4 separate regions of the Homo sapiens genome follow, and all the other regions are linked to region 1. The links come from fine-mapping of genetic effects on gene expression. A gene starts in region 1. Each other region holds a variant in brackets. All regions are shown on one strand. Distances are between the middles of the regions.

Evidence for each region. PIP is the estimated chance that this variant, and not a neighbour inherited with it, causes the effect.
Region 2: its variant is the best candidate, but not a certain one, in a credible set for the expression of UACA in whole blood (INTERVAL, PIP 0.87).
Region 3: its variant is the best candidate, but not a certain one, in a credible set for the expression of UACA in blood mononuclear cells (TOPMed, PIP 0.68).
Region 4: its variant is the best candidate, but not a certain one, in a credible set for the expression of UACA in testis (GTEx, PIP 0.58).

What each region holds. Positions count from the first base shown.
Region 1 is chr15:70,761,395-70,766,549 of GRCh38, reverse strand. UACA (uveal autoantigen with coiled-coil domains and ankyrin repeats) reads left to right here and starts at 2,992. Exons shown (of 19, transcript NM_018003.4): 1 at 2,992-3,220. The coding sequence starts at 3,143. RefSeq lists a silencer at 2,818-3,227.
Region 2 is chr15:70,664,637-70,669,791 of GRCh38, reverse strand. It overlaps UACA (uveal autoantigen with coiled-coil domains and ankyrin repeats), which reads left to right. Exons shown (of 19, transcript NM_018003.4): 16 at 330-3,068; 17 at 4,978-5,130. Among named protein-coding and RNA genes, the nearest start is that of SALRNA2, 32 kb to the right of the region's middle. The variant C/T (reference allele first, on the strand shown) is at 2,063.
Region 3 is chr15:70,621,077-70,626,231 of GRCh38, reverse strand. No RefSeq gene overlaps it. Among named protein-coding and RNA genes, the nearest start is that of SALRNA3, 8.1 kb to the right of the region's middle. The variant C/T (reference allele first, on the strand shown) is at 2,797.
Region 4 is chr15:70,590,219-70,595,373 of GRCh38, reverse strand. No RefSeq gene overlaps it. Among named protein-coding and RNA genes, the nearest start is that of LINC02204, 6.2 kb to the right of the region's middle. The variant A/C (reference allele first, on the strand shown) is at 3,020.

The DNA.
Region 1 (5,155 bases):
ATTTGAGATTACCATGTGTATATATAATCTAGTAAAGTAATTTTAAAAAATGCATTACCCTTCCTGGTATATATTGTAAATAAATAAATATTGGAAAAAAAAAAGAAGTAAAACAAAAAAATATTTTATATAGGCTCAGTGTGATAACAAACAAAAGGTCATCTAGGTTTGATAAGTGCCCTTTGCTCTGAAGGGAAGATAAAAATAAATAATAGTGATAAGAGTTAACAAAATAAAACCCAACCTGTCTGGTTGAATGCTAATAATAGTGACTTTACTTCATATAGGCAGCTTCCAGATCAATGTAAAAAAGCTTTACTGAATATTCAGACCAGTGCTATTTACTTAGCTGCTCTCAAATGGGAATAAGCAGACATCAGCTATCAAGTTTCTAGGCTGGAAAAATCCATAAAGGCCACTGGACACAGACACCATGGGGACATCATCCAGACAGTTCATAAAAATAACTTGCCCAACATTTTTGGAACCTGATGCAAGCTATACTTGTGGTTCTGTCTGTTTCCTTTGCTTTATCCAGTAACAACAGAAAAGGAGGCCAGTCACCAGGACTATGATAACTTGGATGTTACAGGAGACAACCAGTACAACATAACACTGCAATTAATAACTCAAGAGCCAATTACTGAGACAGTGCTCTTGTAAGCAATTAACATTTAAGATTCAGTCAGAGGACTAGATGGTAAATGGGTGCTTATCTTAAGCCCAGAGAAAGGAGTTGATTGAGACACAAATATTTGAGCAGGACCATAGCCTCAGATCATTCCATCTGTGTTCACAATAGGGGGAATCCCAATCCTGTGTCACATAAATACATAGAACAAACAACCATAATTTGCTATAGTAGTCAATAAGAATGCATCAATTCATTCAGAAATATTTATTAAACACCTATAACATGCTAAGCATTCTAGGGAATTCAAATATATGTCAGTTATTCCCCAATTTTAAGTAAATTGAAGTCCAGTAATGAAATAAGGTTTGCTCAGCTCATATGTGTTAGTATCATATGAGAGGTATAATTGCTGTAACTATTTGGAGGATGGAGAGATCACTTCCAGTTACTTGATCAGGGAAGGTTCTATAGAGAGGAGGGCACTTGGAAGGGACATACACTTAAAAACAAACTTTTTGTTAAAGCATAACACACACATAAAAGAGAATATATTGCATACAGTACAGGCTCATTGAATTTTCACAATCTGAAAACACTAGATATGTAACCAGCACCCACAGAGAATAGTACAGTATTCCAGAAGCCCCCGACATCCCCTACCAATCACTCTTGGGGGAGTAGGATTTTCTGAGATGAATGTAGACAGACAGAAGATTATTGGGGGAGGGATCAGTATGCATAAAGATGTGGAAGTTGAAAGCCATGACCCATGTTTGGAGAATGGGCTGAAGAGTAATTCGCTTGGGGTGTTGGCTAGAGAACAGGGTCGCGTCCACGTTATACAGCTTTAAATGCAAAGAATTAGATTTTATTCGTTAGCTGCTGAAGGCTTTTGAGCAAGAGGAGTATTTTTGTAAGACTTATTGATGATGGCTGATAATTTATTGGTGATGGGACAATTAAGAGACTGAAGGTTGGGAGACTGGCTGGGAAGCTTCTGTAATAATAGTCCGGGTATGAGGTAATTTTGGCTCTGCAGTGGCAGTGAGAACAGAGTAACTGACCATACACAGACACTTTAAAGAGCCAACAAGAACTAAATGACTGGAGATCTAGAGGAAGGGGGAGGAATCAAAGAAAATTTTCTTCCAAAGATCTAATCAAGATGAAATTTAATAATATTTTTGGGTAGTTAGTTGTTATTTACTTGTTGTATAGGGTTAACACAGTCTTTGAATGCTGCCTCTCCAAGAAATTCTGAAAACTTTCTTACAGTATTTGAAGAAAACCTTGCGTTACTATAAAGAAACTCTAAAGAGAGCAACTGACCTTTCAGACAAAAAAGAGTCCTTTGTTAGTCAGAAAATGTGGACCGTTTGTCTTTTCAAATGGATGCATGCTACGATAAACGTTTTGCTGGGGGGAAAAATGACTCCAAAGAAGACTTTTGAAGATGTCACCCGAACAGCAAATTATTGGGTGCTGAGCACCTTCCTGTTTCTTCATCCTCTTAAATAATTTTTACTAACCCAGATTTCTAGGTAAGATGATTTAACTTCATCGTATACGTTTACATGTAATGTGTTTCTACAGAAAACAAAAAACCTTTTTGAAGAAAAAAGGGCGTAACTTTTTTTGACAACTTAAATCACTGGCTGTGGGAGTCATTTTTAATTGATGGCACCTCTTCTCCTCCCTCCCCGCCCCCATTCCGTCCCTTTGCTTCCAATACGGCGGATTCTTCACTCAACAAATAAACGAGCACGTAACTTGTACTGTAACTTACTATAACGTCTTTCAAGGTCTTTCTTAACTGTACGTTTTTCTGCACAATCAGCACCTTATTTCTTAGAGACTGTTTATTTCTGGAATTTTTGATGCGTGTGGTGGTTTCCAGGCACCAGGATTTGGTAGTAAAACAGGAGACTGAAAAGAAGTTGCTCCTGAAAGCTGTTCTGTGTGCAGGTAACCAAGAGTCATTTCTAAGACCAGACGGAAGGGAAGGAACTTTACTTGGTAAAGAGCGCGTGGGTGGAAAGAGGAGGGGAGTCCGGGAAGATGAGAGGTGGCAAAGGCGGGACCCCGTGCTCTCTCTAGATCTTAAGCTCCGGGTGGGCGGGCGCCGGTGGCCTGGAGCCCGGCCTGCGCGCATCTCCACGCCTCTGGCCGCCCACCTCCTCCGCCCCTTCCCGGGCTAAAGTTCCCAAACTTTTCCTCCAGCTGGGAGAGGAAGGGTGTTACTCAGTTTAAAAGGGAAGTCCCGCCCCATTCCCGCATTCCGATTGGTCGCGGTTTGCCACGCCCCCGCCAGGGCAGCGGGTCAATTGGCTACGGGAGGGGAGCCCCGCCTCAGGCCTGTCGACGTCTGCTGCCCGGGGCCCGCAGGTGGCAGGCAGGTGGGGCTGGTACAGCCCGCGCCGCCTCTGCTGCAGCCGCTGCCGTCTACTCCTTGCGCGCTGGCACTCCGCAGCCTTTAAGGTTCGCGCGGGGGCCAGGCAAGAGTTAGCCATGAAGAGCCTCAAGTCCCGCCTGAGGAGGCAGGACGTGCCCGGCCCCGCGTCGTCTGGCGCCGCCGCCGCCAGCGCGGTGAGTCCCGCGGTCCGGGCTGCGAGGCGCTCCGCTCCGGGAGCAGCGCAGCCCTCCTTTGCTGGCGAGTTCGCGCGCCGCCTTCCTCTGCTTTTCCTCTGCCAGTTCGGCTTCGGCGGCCCTGGCGACTCCTCCCTGAGGCCGGAGACTCCGTCAGCCCAGAGACCCCGGGGATCCTCCCCGCCGCCGCACCCGAGCCTCTACGGGTCTCTTCCCCACCCCTTTCTCCCAAGCCTCCGAACTTCTGGAAGAAACCTCAGTGGGGCGGTTCTGGCCCCCTCCTCCTAAATCCAAAGTTCCTCGATTGGCACCCCTACTCCGCTCTTTCCGTTGACCCCCCCTCGTCGCTCTCCTCTCCCGGCGCTCGCCCTGCTGCCCACGCCCGCTCGGCCGTGTTGGCTCCCCAGTCCCCGGGGCCGGGGCTCGCACCAGGTAGGGCAGGTGGGCAGGGCTGCGCACCCCGCGCCACCGTGCCCGGACTCCGGACCTTCCCCGGGTCTGAGACAGCGTCAAGCCCTGCCGGGCTGGTGGACGTCCCGTGCTGGCCGCTGTCGTTGTCACTGGGAAGTTTGATTCCCCAGCGAGGCAGAGGGAATCGGCTTAGTCGTAAAGACAAAACCCCACAGGGTGGTGACCCTAGAGGTGGTGAAGTTGGGAGGGGTGGTGGTGATGTGGGTTGTGTAAATCGCACCTGTGGGGCGGGATCCGTGCGGGGCTCTTTCGGTGCTGACCTGCAGCGCGGCCTCAGTGTGCGCGCCAAGGAGTAGTCGGGGCCTCTTTAGTTGGCAGGAGAACAGAAATCTTGAGAAACAGCCTGACCGCAGATGTTGTGATTTAGATAATTTGTCACGTTACAAGAATGGCGATATCATCAAAATTCTATATCATTAAAATAAGTGCCACTTACAAAGTCTTGGAAGAGTCGAACGTAAAGGAGTTGTTATGCTCCAACTGCACAGTTACCTAGTTGGGGTAATTAAAATGAACCTTTACAATTCAACGCAGATTTTACCAAATGATTATATTCTTTTTATCAGAATACTAATTAATCTGCTTCTGCTTTTTTGAGTTAATTCAGTTATGCCTTTCTCTCCACCTATATCGAGGATTATTTTACTTGGACATAAAGGAAATTGTGGAGGAACTACCTAGACTTAAATTCCTATTTCAAAAAAAGAGAGTAGATTCAGATGACGTAATTGATGTTCTTTGATAAAGCATGAAGTCGTTTTATAAGCTCATGGAAAACAGAGATTACTTTGTTTCACTTTTTTTTTTAAAAAAAGTAACTGGCAGAAATGTCATTTAGTGATATTGGAGTTCATTACAGTTAAGATTCTACTTCTGTAATGCAAGTTGTGTTTTTAGCCTTATAGAAGATACAAGTTTCTAGATTTATTAGCTTTGTTTTCCCTGGTTGTGTTTGATTTGCACTAAGGATGTAAATCCCACTTGGAGGTTTATATGCCTTAATTTTATCCAGTTTTCTAGAAATGCAGAGTATTTAGTAGGTATTATCAGCATGATAGTTTGCATTTTATACATTTGGAACATAAAGTGCATATCTCTGAGCTTAAATCTTTAGCACTCAATTGAGCGTTCTATTTTTCTCAAAATGACATAATAAAGATAAACATGATATTAACCTATTTATGTAGAAAAAGCAAACATTTCTGTTTAAATATTAGAATAAGTTCTGTACAATTTAAAAATAAAAGCGTAATGAGGAATAAAACTTAGAATGAATTCTGTAAAATTTTAAAATAAAACTGTAGTGATGAATAAAACCAAACCAAGCATTGATAGAATAAAACACATGTACAGGAGAAATAGACCCTTTCTGCTTTTCAATCTATAAACCATAATCCCAGATTTGGTCACATGTATATGTATTTATTGTATGATTGGGCCACCCTTTTTTTTTTTCTTTTTGCC
Region 2 (5,155 bases), 97 kb after region 1:
ATGATATTCATGTGTGGGTAGGTGTTAATGAATGGGGGAAGAAAGACAAAATAGCACCCAGTAGCCATGGCCATTGTCCGTTGTTCTGCCAGAAATAGACTTACGTGAACAGAACTCTCAAAATGTTGTGAATGTATTAAGGAAATCATATCCAGAACTGTTTCCTTACCACAAAAATCAGCATTGTGATTTTTTTTCCATCTTACTGCCTAATCTGAAAACCCTTTGATTCCTGATGATGTGCTAACTTTCTCTAAGTTTGGCAAATAAGTATAGTAAATGTCTCATTTAGGCTTTTGTGATTGATGTCTTTTTTTTTTTCTTTTCAGTGTACTTCCCCAGGTATACCAGCCCATATGCAAAGCAGATCTATGTTAAGACCTCTGGAACTATCTTTACCCAGTCAAACGTCATACTCTGAAAATGAAATTTTAAAGAAAGAGTTAGAAGCAATGCGAACTTTCTGTGAGTCAGCAAAACAAGACCGACTGAAGCTCCAAAATGAACTGGCACACAAAGTGGCAGAATGCAAAGCTTTAGCATTAGAATGTGAAAGGGTCAAGGAGGATTCAGATGAACAGATAAAGCAATTAGAAGATGCATTAAAAGATGTGCAGAAGAGGATGTATGAGTCAGAAGGTAAAGTTAAACAAATGCAGACCCATTTTCTTGCCCTTAAAGAACACTTAACAAGTGAAGCAGCCTCAGGGAATCACAGACTAACCGAGGAACTGAAGGATCAGTTGAAAGACTTGAAAGTAAAATATGAAGGTGCTTCAGCAGAAGTGGGGAAATTAAGAAACCAAATCAAACAAAATGAGATGATAGTAGAAGAGTTTAAGAGGGATGAAGGCAAGCTGATAGAAGAAAATAAGCGATTACAGAAGGAACTTAGTATGTGTGAAATGGAGCGAGAGAAGAAAGGAAGAAAGGTCACAGAGATGGAAGGCCAGGCAAAAGAATTGTCAGCGAAGTTGGCCCTTTCCATTCCAGCTGAAAAATTTGAAAACATGAAGAGCTCATTATCAAATGAAGTGAATGAGAAAGCAAAAAAATTAGTAGAAATGGAAAGAGAACATGAAAAATCACTTAGTGAAATTAGACAGTTAAAGAGAGAACTTGAGAATGTTAAGGCCAAGCTTGCTCAGCACGTCAAACCAGAGGAACATGAACAGGTTAAGAGCAGATTAGAACAGAAATCAGGAGAACTTGGGAAGAAGATCACTGAGTTAACATTGAAAAATCAGACACTACAAAAGGAAATTGAAAAAGTTTATTTGGATAATAAGCTCCTCAAGGAGCAAGCACATAACTTAACAATTGAAATGAAAAATCATTATGTTCCTTTAAAAGTAAGTGAAGACATGAAAAAGTCACATGATGCAATTATTGATGATCTTAATAGAAAGCTTTTAGATGTAACACAAAAATATACAGAAAAGAAGTTGGAAATGGAGAAATTGCTACTGGAAAATGACAGCTTAAGTAAGGATGTAAGCCGCCTAGAAACTGTGTTTGTACCTCCTGAGAAACATGAAAAAGAGATAATAGCTCTGAAATCCAATATTGTTGAACTTAAGAAACAGCTGTCTGAACTTAAGAAAAAATGTGGTGAAGACCAGGAGAAAATACACGCTCTCACATCTGAAAACACTAACTTGAAGAAGATGATGAGTAATCAGTATGTGCCAGTTAAAACCCATGAAGAGGTTAAAATGACACTGAATGACACGTTAGCCAAAACTAACAGAGAATTATTAGATGTGAAGAAAAAATTTGAAGATATAAATCAGGAATTTGTAAAAATAAAAGATAAGAATGAAATATTAAAAAGAAACCTGGAAAACACTCAGAACCAAATAAAAGCTGAGTACATCAGCCTGGCAGAGCACGAGGCAAAGATGAGCTCGCTAAGTCAGAGCATGAGAAAGGTGCAGGATAGTAATGCTGAAATCTTGGCCAACTACAGAAAAGGCCAAGAAGAGATTGTGACACTGCATGCCGAAATTAAAGCCCAGAAGAAGGAGCTCGACACAATACAAGAATGCATTAAGGTAAAATA[C/T]GCCCCAATTGTCAGCTTTGAGGAGTGCGAGAGAAAATTTAAAGCAACAGAGAAAGAACTAAAAGACCAGTTATCAGAGCAGACACAAAAGTATAGTGTCAGTGAAGAAGAAGTCAAGAAAAACAAGCAAGAGAATGACAAGTTAAAGAAGGAGATTTTTACCCTTCAGAAAGATTTGAGAGATAAGACAGTTCTCATTGAGAAGTCTCATGAAATGGAAAGAGCATTAAGCAGAAAAACAGACGAGCTAAACAAACAGTTAAAAGACTTGTCACAGAAATACACGGAAGTAAAGAATGTGAAAGAGAAGCTAGTAGAAGAAAATGCCAAACAGACTTCTGAGATACTTGCAGTGCAAAATCTTTTGCAAAAACAACATGTTCCATTGGAACAGGTTGAGGCTCTGAAAAAATCTCTTAATGGCACAATTGAAAATCTAAAGGAAGAACTGAAGAGTATGCAAAGGTGTTACGAGAAAGAGCAGCAGACAGTGACCAAACTGCATCAATTGTTGGAGAATCAAAAGAACTCTTCTGTACCCCTGGCAGAGCATTTGCAGATTAAAGAAGCATTTGAGAAAGAAGTTGGAATCATAAAAGCCAGCTTGAGAGAAAAGGAAGAAGAAAGCCAAAACAAAATGGAAGAAGTCTCCAAACTTCAGTCGGAGGTTCAGAATACTAAACAAGCATTAAAAAAATTAGAGACTAGAGAGGTAGTTGACTTGTCTAAATATAAAGCAACAAAAAGTGATTTGGAGACACAGATTTCTAGCTTAAATGAAAAATTGGCCAATCTGAATAGAAAGTATGAGGAAGTATGTGAGGAAGTTTTGCATGCCAAAAAGAAGGAAATATCTGCAAAAGATGAGAAGGAATTACTGCATTTCAGCATTGAGCAAGAAATTAAGGATCAGAAGGAACGATGTGATAAGTCCTTAACAACAATCACAGAGTTACAAAGAAGAATACAAGAATCTGCTAAACAAATAGAAGCAAAAGATAATAAGGTAGGTACAAAGTAGTCTGCACGGCTATGTGTTGGAAACCCCAGAGCAGTGCTCTTTACCACAGAATCTCACAGGAAAGTAGACACAGGTATTAACAAAGTGACCCTTTCCAGTTTAGCAACTTGCGTGCAAAAATTCCGAATTGAAAAAAAAAGTGAAGTAACACAAAAGTCAAAAGCATTTTTCCTTCTGTTTCTTTAGCTGTTCTAGCCAAGAATTCAGGAACGATGGGGAGACTTAAGGCTCACTTGTCTCATACATGAAGAGTCAAAAGCCAGTGGGTTTGTGGCATATGAAAGATGGGGAAGAGGGTGGTGGGGAAGCTCTCTTTCTGGGCTGCAAGAAACCAAGAACACTGGGGAGCATCTAGAGTTGATCTCGGTACTCACCCATAGTAGTAAACTGAGCCCTCCAATTCATTTTATGTTCTGTTGCTCATGTCTTTCTACAGACTAGAAAGTCTACATCCCCTCACCCAGAATGTCCTTTCCCTCCTTTCTACTGAGTTGAATCCTATACATTCATTAACATGTTATCCTCCTTCTTAAAGCCCTCACTGTCCAATCTAGTCTATAGTAAACAGTTCCTCCTCTAAGGTGGATGTTTTACTGTGGCTTTGCCATCCATTTAAAACATTTATATTACCTTGTTAGAATTATGTAGTTGATCTTCCCAATCAGTTTTTATGAGCAGGGTTTATAACTTAACTTTCCATCTTAGCTTTAATTCTCATGGTACAATTTACAGAATAGGTACTCAACAATATTTTTGACACTGATGTTGCATAAAGTTTTTACTATGGATATGACATATAAAGATTGGCTGCAGTTTTATCCATTCAACATGTAATGATTAAATGCCTTCTGCATGTCATGTGCTGGGGATACAGTGGAGTAAACACAGACACAGACTGCCCTCCCCAGTGGAAAGTACTTGTACATACTGTCCTCTGGCACACCATCTCTGTGATTGAGAATTTAAATGCTCTAAGCTTGTTCAGAAGGTACCTATGAATATATATAGTAATATATAAGAGTTAATTATTAATATCTACTTGTTGCCATTTATTGAGCGGGTGCATGTAATTGCATTTCATTTTCTTTGTTTTTTTTCTATTATTATTTTTCAATAAAAAATTTTGTGGGGGAGGAGATGGTATCTTGCTCTATTGCCCAGGCTGGTCTTGAATTCCTGAGTTTAAACAATCTTCCTGCCTTAGCCTCCCAAAGTGTTGGGACTATAGGTGTGAGCCACTGTGCCCAACCTGATTTTCTTAACTCTGAAAGATTGTCCACCTTTCACCAATGTGGAATCTAAGGCTCAGAAAAGTAAATTAGCCAAGCTCATACAAGTTGACTCTGTCTGACTTTAAAGCAGGGTGGAAAAATGCTATGTTTCTAGGCACTTCCTATTCCTATAAACAAGCCTCCTTGTTTTTTTTCTCTCTACAACAAAGTGGTCTTAAATAATACAACTCTTGAAAGGAAAAAGGAACATATGTTAATCCTAGACTTACACGGGCCACACCCTTTTACTTTTCACACTTTGTTGCTGGGAATCCCCCTTCCCTTCCTGTGTTCCATATGTTACCTGGAAGATAGTTCATGTGCCTTCGTAGATGCTTATATATTAGCTAAAAGTAAGACTATGTTTATACTCACATCTTAGGATATATGTAATATTTATTCTTAATTTGGTATTGCTTTTGTAAATAATTTCTGGAGAGGGATTTAATTATAAATTACATATTGTATACATCCTTGGTAACAGTCTTGGCAATATTCATACCTCAATTTTCTGGTGTATAAAGATAAAGCTTCTGTCTCCAAAAAGGAATGATTTCTGTACAAAGATGTTCATTGTACATGATAAGTGAATAATATATTTCTCCTACAACATTTTTTTAAAGATAACTGAACTGCTTAATGATGTGGAAAGATTAAAACAGGCACTCAATGGCCTTTCCCAACTCACCTACACAAGTGGGAACCCCACCAAGAGGCAGAGCCAGCTGATTGACACTCTGCAGCACCAAGTGAAATCTCTGGAGCAACAGCTGGCCGTGAGTAACCAGGCACACGGGGCTT
Region 3 (5,155 bases), 140 kb after region 1:
TGAGGGCAGGTTTCTTTTTCTTTTCTTTTTCTTTTTCTTTTTTTTTTTTTTTGAGACAGAGTCTTGCTCTGTCGCCCAGGCTGGAGTTCATCGGCGTGATCTCGGCTCACTGCAACCTCTGCCTCTCGGGTTCAAGCAATTCTCCTGTCTCAGCCTCCTGAGTAGCTGGGACTACAGGCGCCCGTCACCATGCCTGGCTAATTTTTGTATTTTTAGCAGAGATGGGATTTCTCCGTATTGGTCAGGCTGGTCTTGAACCCTTGTCCTCAGGTGATCCATCCATCTGGTTTCTTTTTGATATAATGCTTTCTTTTCCTTTGGGATCACTTCAGGAAGAGAACTGATTGGCATATCTATTGGATTCAAGGGAGCCAGCAGAATAGTTCCCTTATTAATGATGAACCTGATATTTGGGTTTAATAATCTATCAGACTTTGATAATTATACCCACCCAAAAGTATTAGCTTGTGAATTTTTGTTCTTGGAGGAGCATAACAGAACGTGTGCTTCTTTGGGGCAACCTGTTCCAGAGAGAGAGGACAGAAGAAGCTGAAGTGCACATTCCCAGTTCCTCTTTTCTAACTCACCAGTTGGAGTGAGGCCAGAAGTGTTACAAAGAATGGTGCCCCTCCACATAGAATGATAAACGAGTGAGAATAATCTTTCCCTCCTAACAATGACATCGGGGTTTGAGGAAAACTGTAGGACTAGATAGAGCATTGTAGAAGTTCTAGAAAATAGTATATCTAATTGTTGAAAAGGAATGCAGTCCAAAATTAGTTTTTTAGGTTGATAAAACAGAGACTAAGGAATGGAAGAAGAAGAGGAAGAAGTGAGATTTCTCCTTCCTCAGCAATTAATGTCAAAGACATTCTTATAAACTAAATAGGCAATGAAGAACAATTGTGAAAAAGGACCTCAATTTGAGCATCTCTTGGAAATTCTTGTAAAAAGAATGCCTAACTTGATTTTGAAGTTTGTTCTAGGACAGGGAGAAAATATCTTTGGCTCAAACTTCATTTGACTCATGTTTTAAGGAAAGAGCCAATCTATCCCAGGCAGAAAAATTCCACCAAAAGATTTATGACTTAACTTTTATGTTAAACAATTGGTTTTGTCTGACACATGTTTGAAAAGCATATATAGTGACTTCTGATAATGAATGACTTGATCATTTGGATTAATTCTCCCCATTAGCACAATAAGGAAAACCAGACAAAATATTTTTTTAAAAGATCTACATGTAGGCTGTAGTGAGCTGATATGATAAAGAAGCATATTGGAGGATGACAGAAACCCAGAGAGGTAAATTCAAAATTTGGGCTTTTTGGAGCATGTTCTCTGACCAAAATTGAATTAAATGAGAACCAACAACTATGACATCTATGAAAAACGCACATTTTGGAGATTCAACAATACGGTTTTCTATAACCCATAGGTCAAAGAAGAAATTACCCCAAATTAAAAAATATTTTAGGCCAGGCACGGTGGCTCATGCCTGTAATCCCAGCACTTTGGGAGGCCGAGGCGGGTGGATCACCTGAGGTCAGGAGTTCAAGACCAGCCTGGCCAACATGGTGAAACCCCATCTCTACTAAAAATACAAAAATTAGCCAGGCCTGGTGGCACGTGCCTGTAGTCCCAGCTACTCGGGAGGCTGATGCAGGAGAACTGCTTGAATCCAGGAGGCGGAGGTTGCAGTGAGCCGAGATCGTGCCACTGCACTCCAGCCTGGGTGACAGAGTGAGACTGCATCTGAAAATAATAATAATAATAACAATAATAAAAATCTCAGACATTAGGATAATGAAAATAACAACATCTAAATCTGTGAGATTTGGCTAAATCAGTGTTTAGAGGAAAATGATTTACATCCTTTTATTAGGTGTGCTGGCTTACACCTGTAATCCCAGCACTTTGGGGGGCCGAGGCAGGTAGATCACGAGGTCAGGAGATCGAGACCATCCTGGCCAACATGGTGAAACCCCGTCTCTACTAAAAATACAAATTGGCTGGGCGTGGTGGTGTGCGCCTGTAGTCCCAGCTACTCGGGAGGCTGAGGCAAGAGAATTGCTTGAACCCGAGAGGCGGCGGTTGCAGTGAGCCGAGATCGCACCACTGCATTCCAGCCTGGCAACACAGTGAGACTCCATCGCAAAAAAAGAAAAGAAAAAAGTGTTGAAAAATCAATGCCCAAAGAGCTAAGAGAAAACAAACAAACAAAAAAGAGCAATGTAAACCAAAAATAAGTGGAAGGAAAAAACAATAAAGACAAAAGCAAAAATCAGTAGAGAAGAGATCAGGTAATATAAACAATTAACAAGGCCAAAGTTGTTTCCTTGAAAAGATGAATGAAATTGGTAAATCCCTGGTTAGACTGGTCATAGAGGGGAGACAAAGGACCCACACCAGGAATAAATGAAAATTAATTAATTAATACAGATACAGATATTAAAAAGATAGAAGGGCATATTATAAATAGCTGTATACCAACAAATTCAACACTATAGACAAAATTGAAAATATAATTCATGAGAACTGACATAAGATGAAACAGAAACTCTGAGTAGCCTATATCTATTAAATAATTTAATTTTTTTTTTTAAACAACTTCCTGCTTTGGGGGGCTGAGGTGAGATCACTTGAGGCAAGGAGTTTGAGACCAGACTGAGTAACATTGCAAGACCACATCTCTACAAAAATTTAAAAAAATTAGCCAAGCATGGTGGTACACACTTATGGTCCTAGGTACTCAGGAAGTGAGGTGGGAAGATTGAGCCTAAGAGTTCAAGGCTG[C/T]AGTGATCATGCCACTGTACTCCAACCTGGGTGACAGAACAAGACTTTGTCTCTTAAGAACAACAACAACAAAACACACACACACAAAACTCTTCACAAAGAAAATTCCAGCCTCAAATAGCTTTATTGGTAAATTCTATAAAAATTCAAGGATAAAATAAAATAATACCAATTTTACATAAAATCCTTAAGAAAATAAATAAAGTAGGACAATTATTTAATTATCTGAGGTTAGCATAACTCTAATACCAAAATCTGTGAAAGATATTCCAAAGATAAAATAAAATAAAATTTCAGACCAATATTCCTCATGAACATAGACATAAAATTCCTAAAAAAAGTTTTAGCAAATTGAATCCAACAGTATATAAAAAGGATAATATACCATGAGCACATGGGATTTATCCTAGAAATGCAAGGTTGGCTTAATGTTTGAAAATCAATCAATGTAATTCACCATATTAACAACATAAAGAAAGGAGAAAAACAATATGATAATTTTGATAGATGTGGAAAATGCAAGTGAAAACATTTAAAATCCATTAATAATAAAATCTCTCAGTAAAGTAGGAAAAAAGAGATCCTCCTCACATTTCTATAGGTCATCTATATGAAAAACCTGCAATTAACACCATGGTTGATTTGATAGTGAAATAGTGAATGCTTTACCTCTCAGCCTGAGCACAAGGTAAGGATGTAACTCTCACTGCTACTATTTAACATTGTATTAGAGGTTATAGCCATTGCAATAAGACAAGGACAATAAATAAAAGGTATACAGATTGAAAAATAGAAGTAAAACTGCCTGTGTTTGCAGGTAATATGACTGTTTATGTAGAAAACTCCAAGGAATTTATGAAAGAGCTATTAGAAATAAAAAACAAATTTAGCAAACCTGTAGGATACAAGTATAATATACAAAAATTAATAGTTATTTTATACTAGCAGCAAACCAGTGGAAAATATCCTAAAAACATTCATTTAATACAATGTCAAAAACATAAAACTTAGGATTAAATACAAGAGATATGTACAGTAAAAATTCAAGAACTTTGCTGAGAGAAATTAAAGATCTAAATAAATAGGCATATATACCATGTTCATGGATCATAAGACTCAACATTGCTACGATGTCAATTCTCTCCAAAATGGGATGTTTAATATATGAAGCAATGTAAATCCAAGCAAGCTTTCAAACCAGACACTGACAATTGATTTTTAAAATTTGAAATGACAAAGAACCATAAATAACAAATACAATTTTTTTCATTAACTTTTATTTTAAGTTCCAGGGTACATGTGCAGGATGTGCAGGTTCATTACACAGGTAAACATTTTTAAAAGAAGAAAAATGTTGGAGGACTTAAACTCTCTGATTTCAAGACTTACTATCAGCTATAATAAACAAAACAGCATGGTATATAGACATATAGAGCAGTGGAACAGAAGAGAGTTGAGAAGTGAACTCATATATATATATGAGTAATTGCTTTTTGAGAAAGTTGCCAAGATAATTCATTAGATAATGGGTAATCTTTTCAACAACTGATTTATTTATTTATATTATTATTATTATTATTATTATTATTATGCTTTAAGTTCTAGGGTACATGTGCACAACATGCAGATTTGTTACATATGTATACATGTGCCATCTTGGTGTGCTGCACCCAGTAACTCATCATTTACATTAGGTATTTCTCCTAATGTTATCCCTCCACCCTTCCCTCACCCCACAACAGGTCCTGGTGTGTAATGTTCCCCCCGTGTCCAAGTGTTCTCATTGTTCAGTTCCAACCTATGAGTGAGAACATGTGGTGTTTGGTTTTCTGTCCTTGTGATAGTTTGCTCAGAATGATGGTTTCCAGCTTCATCCATGTCCCTACAAAGGACATGCACTCATCCTTTTTTACGGCTGCATAGTATTCCATGGTATATATGTGCCACATTTTCTTAATCCAGTCTATCACTGATGGACATTTGTGTTGGTTCCAAGTCTTTGCTATTGTGAATAATGCTGCAATAAACATACGTGTGCATGTGTCTTTATAGCAGCATGATCTATAATCCTTTGGGTATATACCCAGTAATGGGATGGCTGGGTCAAATGGTATTTCTGGTTGTAGATCCTTGAGGAATCGCCACACTGACTTCCACAGTGGTTGAACTAATTTATACTCCCATCAACAGTGTAAAAGCATTCCTATTTCTCCACATCCTCTCTAGCACCTGTTGTTTCCTGACTTTTTAATGATCACCATTCTAACTGGTGGAGATGGTATCTCATTGTGGTTTTGATTTGCATTTCTCTGATGGGCAGTGATGATGAGCATTTTTTCATGTGTCTGTTGGCTGCATA
Region 4 (5,155 bases), 170 kb after region 1:
AAAAATTACACCATGAGCAAGAGCCAGCAGAAAAAACAGACAGCAGAATTAGTCCAGAAAAGACTTTCATATCAGAATTAATGGATACAGAGTATTAAGGAAGTATGTTTAATACATTTATAGAAATGAAAGAGATACTTGAAAATAAGCGAAGAAAGAGATAAAAGAACATAAGTACTTTGAAAAGGGAAAAAAGAAAATAGAATATCAAAGGAAGAACCAAGATGAATTATAAAAGAACCAAATAAAACTTTCAGGAATAAGAAACAGCAATTGAAATCTAAAATTTGAGTAGATGGGTGATATACTAGAAGCAGCTGAAGAGAGAATTATGAACTAGATGATAGATCCGAAGTAATTACCTAGAATGTATCCCAGAGAGAAAAGACAACAGAAAGTATGAAAGGAAAGTTAAGCAACATGGAAGATGAGTAATCTCTAATCAGAGTTTCAGAAGAGAAGATAGAAAAATCATAGCTGAGAATTCTCCAGAATTGTTGAAAGACAGTAAACTTTAGAACTAGGATGCTCTGAATTTCAAGCAGGATAAGAAATTTACCCCTAGACATATCATTGGAAAAATGCAGAACACCAAAGACAAAGAAAAGATTACAAAAGCAGCCAGAAAAAGATGAATTACCTACAAAACAATTACCCTTGCAAGGGGAATAAAAACCAGAAGATAATAGAAAAATTGTTGAAAGAAAATAACAGTCTAAAATACAGTTTTATACACAATACTGAGTATACAATAGTCAGCAAAAATATCTTTTAAATGGGAGGCCAAAATAAAGTCATTTTTAGACAAAAAAATGAAGAAGTTGAAACCAGCAAATCTTCACTTAAGGAAATTCTAAAATAATATACTTCCTATAGAAGGAATGTGATCTCAGACGTGATCCCAGATCTCAGATATGATATACAAAGAGGAATTAAGAGGCAAGAAATTGGTGAACATGTATGGTCATATCTAAATATGCAATGATTGTATAAAATAAGACATAATGTCTATTTTTTGGCTAAAGGAAAAATAGGATAAAAAGTAGATCCCAGTAACTTGCAAGTTGGGAGGTGTAATCAGAGTTAAGTATTTAAAAATCCATGAATTTTTCAGAAAAGGGGTAAGGATACTAATTAGCTTTAGACACTATTAAACATACTTGTTGAACTTTCTAGGGTAGCTACTATAATAACAGAGGTAAAAAATTGAGTGAGAAAAACAAATCAATCACCCTCCCTCCACCAAAAAAATGACAAGGAAAGAGAAACCAAATAAGAAAAAGAGAAAAAAATGGGACAAATGTGTACAGTACAAAATAAGATAACAAAAATAAATCAAAATATGCCAACAGTCACAATAAATGTAAAGTAACTAAAATTTCTGGTAAAAGACAAGGATTTTTGGAGTTATTTTTTAAATAAGCAAAATTCAGTTTATATGCTTTTTACAAGAGACATAACTAAAATATAAGCATACATAAAAGCTGAATGTAAAAGGCTAGAAAGATATATACCAGGCAAATACTAAGCCAAAGAACATAAATGATGTGGTGATATTAATAGAAGAAAAATAGTATTTAAGGAAAAAAGGATAACTTCAGACTTACAGTTCCATTACATAATGATAGGACATTCTTCACTAGGAAGATGTAACAATTCTAAACCAAAATAAACCTAATAAAAATAACATTAAAATATGTAAAGCAAAAATTGCCAGAACTATAAGAAAAAACTTACAAATTCACAGTCAAAATAGATTTTAATTTTCTTCTCTTATTAATCTGTGCGATTAAAAAATTAACAAAAATTTAGAGTATTTGAACAACACAAAGATGAAGTTTGCCCTAATAGACTTTTACACACAAATAGAGAACACATTCTTTTCTTTTTTGTTTTTTAAGTTCAGGGTACATGTGCAGGTTTGTGTATTTAGTCTGTTTTCATGCTGCTGATAAAGACATACCCAAGACTGGGCAATCTACAAAAGAAAGAGGTTTAATGGGACTTACAGTTTCACATGGCTGGGGAGGCCTCACAATCATGGTGGAAGGCAAGGAGGAGCAAGCTGCATCTTACATGAATAGCAGCAGGCAAAAAGAGAGCTTGTGTAGGGAAACTTCCGTTTTTAAAACCATCAGCTCTCGTGAGACTTATTCACTATCACGAGAACAGAGCAGGAAAGACCCGCCCATATAATTCAATCACCTCACACTGGGTTCCTCCCACAACACATGGGAATTGTGGGAGTTACAATTCAACAAGAGATTTGGTTGGGGACGCAAACCATATCATTCTGCCCCTGGCTTCTCCTAAATCTCAAGTCCTCACATTTCAAAACCAGTCATGCCTTCCCAACAGTCCCCCAGAGTCTTAACTCATTTCAGCATTAATTCAGAAGTCCACAGTCCAATGTCTCATCTGAGACAAGGCAAGTCCCTTCCACCTATGAGCCTGTAAAATCAAAAGCAAATTAGTTACTTCCTAGATACAATGGGAGTACAGGCATTGGGTAAATACAACCATTCCAAATGGGAGAAATCGGCCAAACCAAAGGGACTACAGGCCCCATGCAAGTCCAAAATCCAGCAGGGCAGTCAAATCTTAAAGCTCCAGAATGATCTCCTTTGACTCCATGTCTAACATCCAGGTCATGCTGATGCAAAAGGTGGGTTCCTATGGTCTTGGGCAGCTCCACTCCTGTGGCTTTGCAGGGTAACGCCTCCCTCCTGGCTGCTTTCACAGGCTGGCATTGAGTGTCTGTGGCTTTTTCAAGCCCATGGTGCAGGCTATCAGTGGATCTACCATTCTGGGGTCTGGAGGACGGTGGACCTCTTATCACAGCTCCACTAGGTGGTGCCCCAGTAGGGACTGTGTGTGGGGGCTCCAACCCCACATTTCCCTTCTGTATTGACCTAGCAGAGGTTCTCCATGAGGGCCCTGCCCCTACAGTAAACTTCCACTTGGACATCCAGGCGTTTCTATACATCCTCTGAAATCTAGGTGGAGGTTCCCAAACCTC[A/C]ATTGTTGACTTCTGTGCACCCACAGGCTCAACACCACGTGGAAGCTGCCAAGGCTTGGGACTTGCACCCTCTGAAGCCATGGCCCAAGCTGTACCTTGGATCCTTTTAGTCACAGCTGGAGTGGCTGGGATGCAGGGCACCAAGTCCCTAGGCTGCACACAGCACCAGGACCCTGGGCCCGGCTCATGAAACCATGTTTTCTTTCTAAGCCTCCATGCCTGTGATGGGAGGGGCTGTTGTGAAGACCTCTGACATGCCCTGGAAACATTTTCCCCATTGTTTTGGGGATTAACATTCGGCTCCTCATTACTCATGCAAATTTCTGCAGCAGGCTTGAATTTCTCCTCAGAAAATGGGATTTTCTTTTCTATCACATTGTCAGGCTTCAAATTTTCCAAACTTTTATGCTCTGTTTCCCTTTTAAACTGAATGCTTTTAACAGCACCCAAGTCACTTCTTCAATGCTGACATTTTTTCTGCCAGATACCCTAAATCATCTCTCTGAAGTTCAAAGTTCCACAAATCTCTAGGGCAGGGGCAAAACGCCACCAGTCTCTTTGCTAAAACATAGCAAGAGTCACTTTTACTCCAGTTCCCAACAAGTTCCTCATCTTCATCTGAGACAACCTCAGCCTGGATTTCATTGTCCATATCACTATCAGCATTTTGTTCAAAGCCATTCGATATGTCTCTAGGAAGTTCCAAACTTTCCCACATTTTCCTGTCTTCTTCTGAGCCCTCCAAACTGTTCCAACCTCTGCCTGTTACCCAGTTCCAAAGTCTCTTCCATATTTTTGGGTATGTTTTCAGCAGCGCCCTACTCTACTGGTACCAATTTACTGTATTAGTCTGTTTTCACACTGCTGATAAATACATACCCAAGACTGGGCAACTTAGAAAAGAAAGGTTTAATGGGACTTACAGTTCCACATGGCTGGGGAGGCCTCACAATCATGGCAGAAGGCAAGGAGTAGCAAGTCATATCTTACATGGATGGCAGTAGGCAAAAAGAGAGCCTGTGTAGGGAAACTCCCATTTTTAAAACCAGCAGATCTTGTGAGACTTATTCACTAACACGAGAACAGCTCAGGAAAGACCCGCTCCCATTATTGAATTGCTTCCCATTGGGTTCCTCCCATGACACGTGGAAACTGTGGAAGTTACAATTCAAGATGAGATTTGGGTGGGGACACAGTCAAACCATGTCAGTTTGTTACACAGTTAAACTGGTGTCATGGGAGTTTGTTGTACAGATTATTTTATCATCCAGGTATTAACCTTAGTACCCATTAATTATTTTTCCTGATCCTTTCCCGCCCCCCGCCCTCCACTCTCTGAAAGGGCCCATTGTTCTTTTCAAGCACATGTGGAACATTTATGAAAATTTATCATGAGAAAAGTGATGAAGCAAGCCATAACAATTTCAAAAGGAGTGTTATTATACAGGCCATGTTATTTAACCATAATGCAAGTAAGTTAGAAATCAACAACCACAATGAAAAGAAATTATAAACTCCCATTATTTTGGAAGTTAGAAAAGGGAACACTGAACAACTCACGGGTTAAAAAACTTATAATAGAAATTAGAAAATATTTATAATTGAACATTAATGAAAATATTACACATCAAAACATGATAATACCACCAGAGCAGTATTTACAGGGAAGTTCATAGCATTAAACACTTATATTAGAAATGAAGAAAACCTGAATATTAATGAGGCATACATGAAACTTAATGAGTTAGAATAAAAACAGAAAGTGAAGGAAGGTGATAATAAAGGTAAGTGAAGAAAGAGAAAATAGGCATACAGTCGATATAATAAAAACACTTCAGGCCAGGCGTGGTGGCTCACGACTGTAATCCCAGCACTTTGGGAGGCCGAGGTGGGAGGATCACCTGAGGTCAGAAGTTCGAGGCCATCCTGGCCAACATGGCAAAACCCCGTCTCTACTAAAAATACAAAAACTAGCAGGGTGTGGCAGTGCAGGCCTGTAATCCCAGCTACTCGGGAAGCTGAGGCAGAATTGCTGGAACCTGGGAGGCGGAGGCTGCAGTGAGCCAAGATCATGCCACTGCACTCCAGCCTGGGCAACAGAGTGAGACTCTAGCAAACAACAACAAAACAACACAA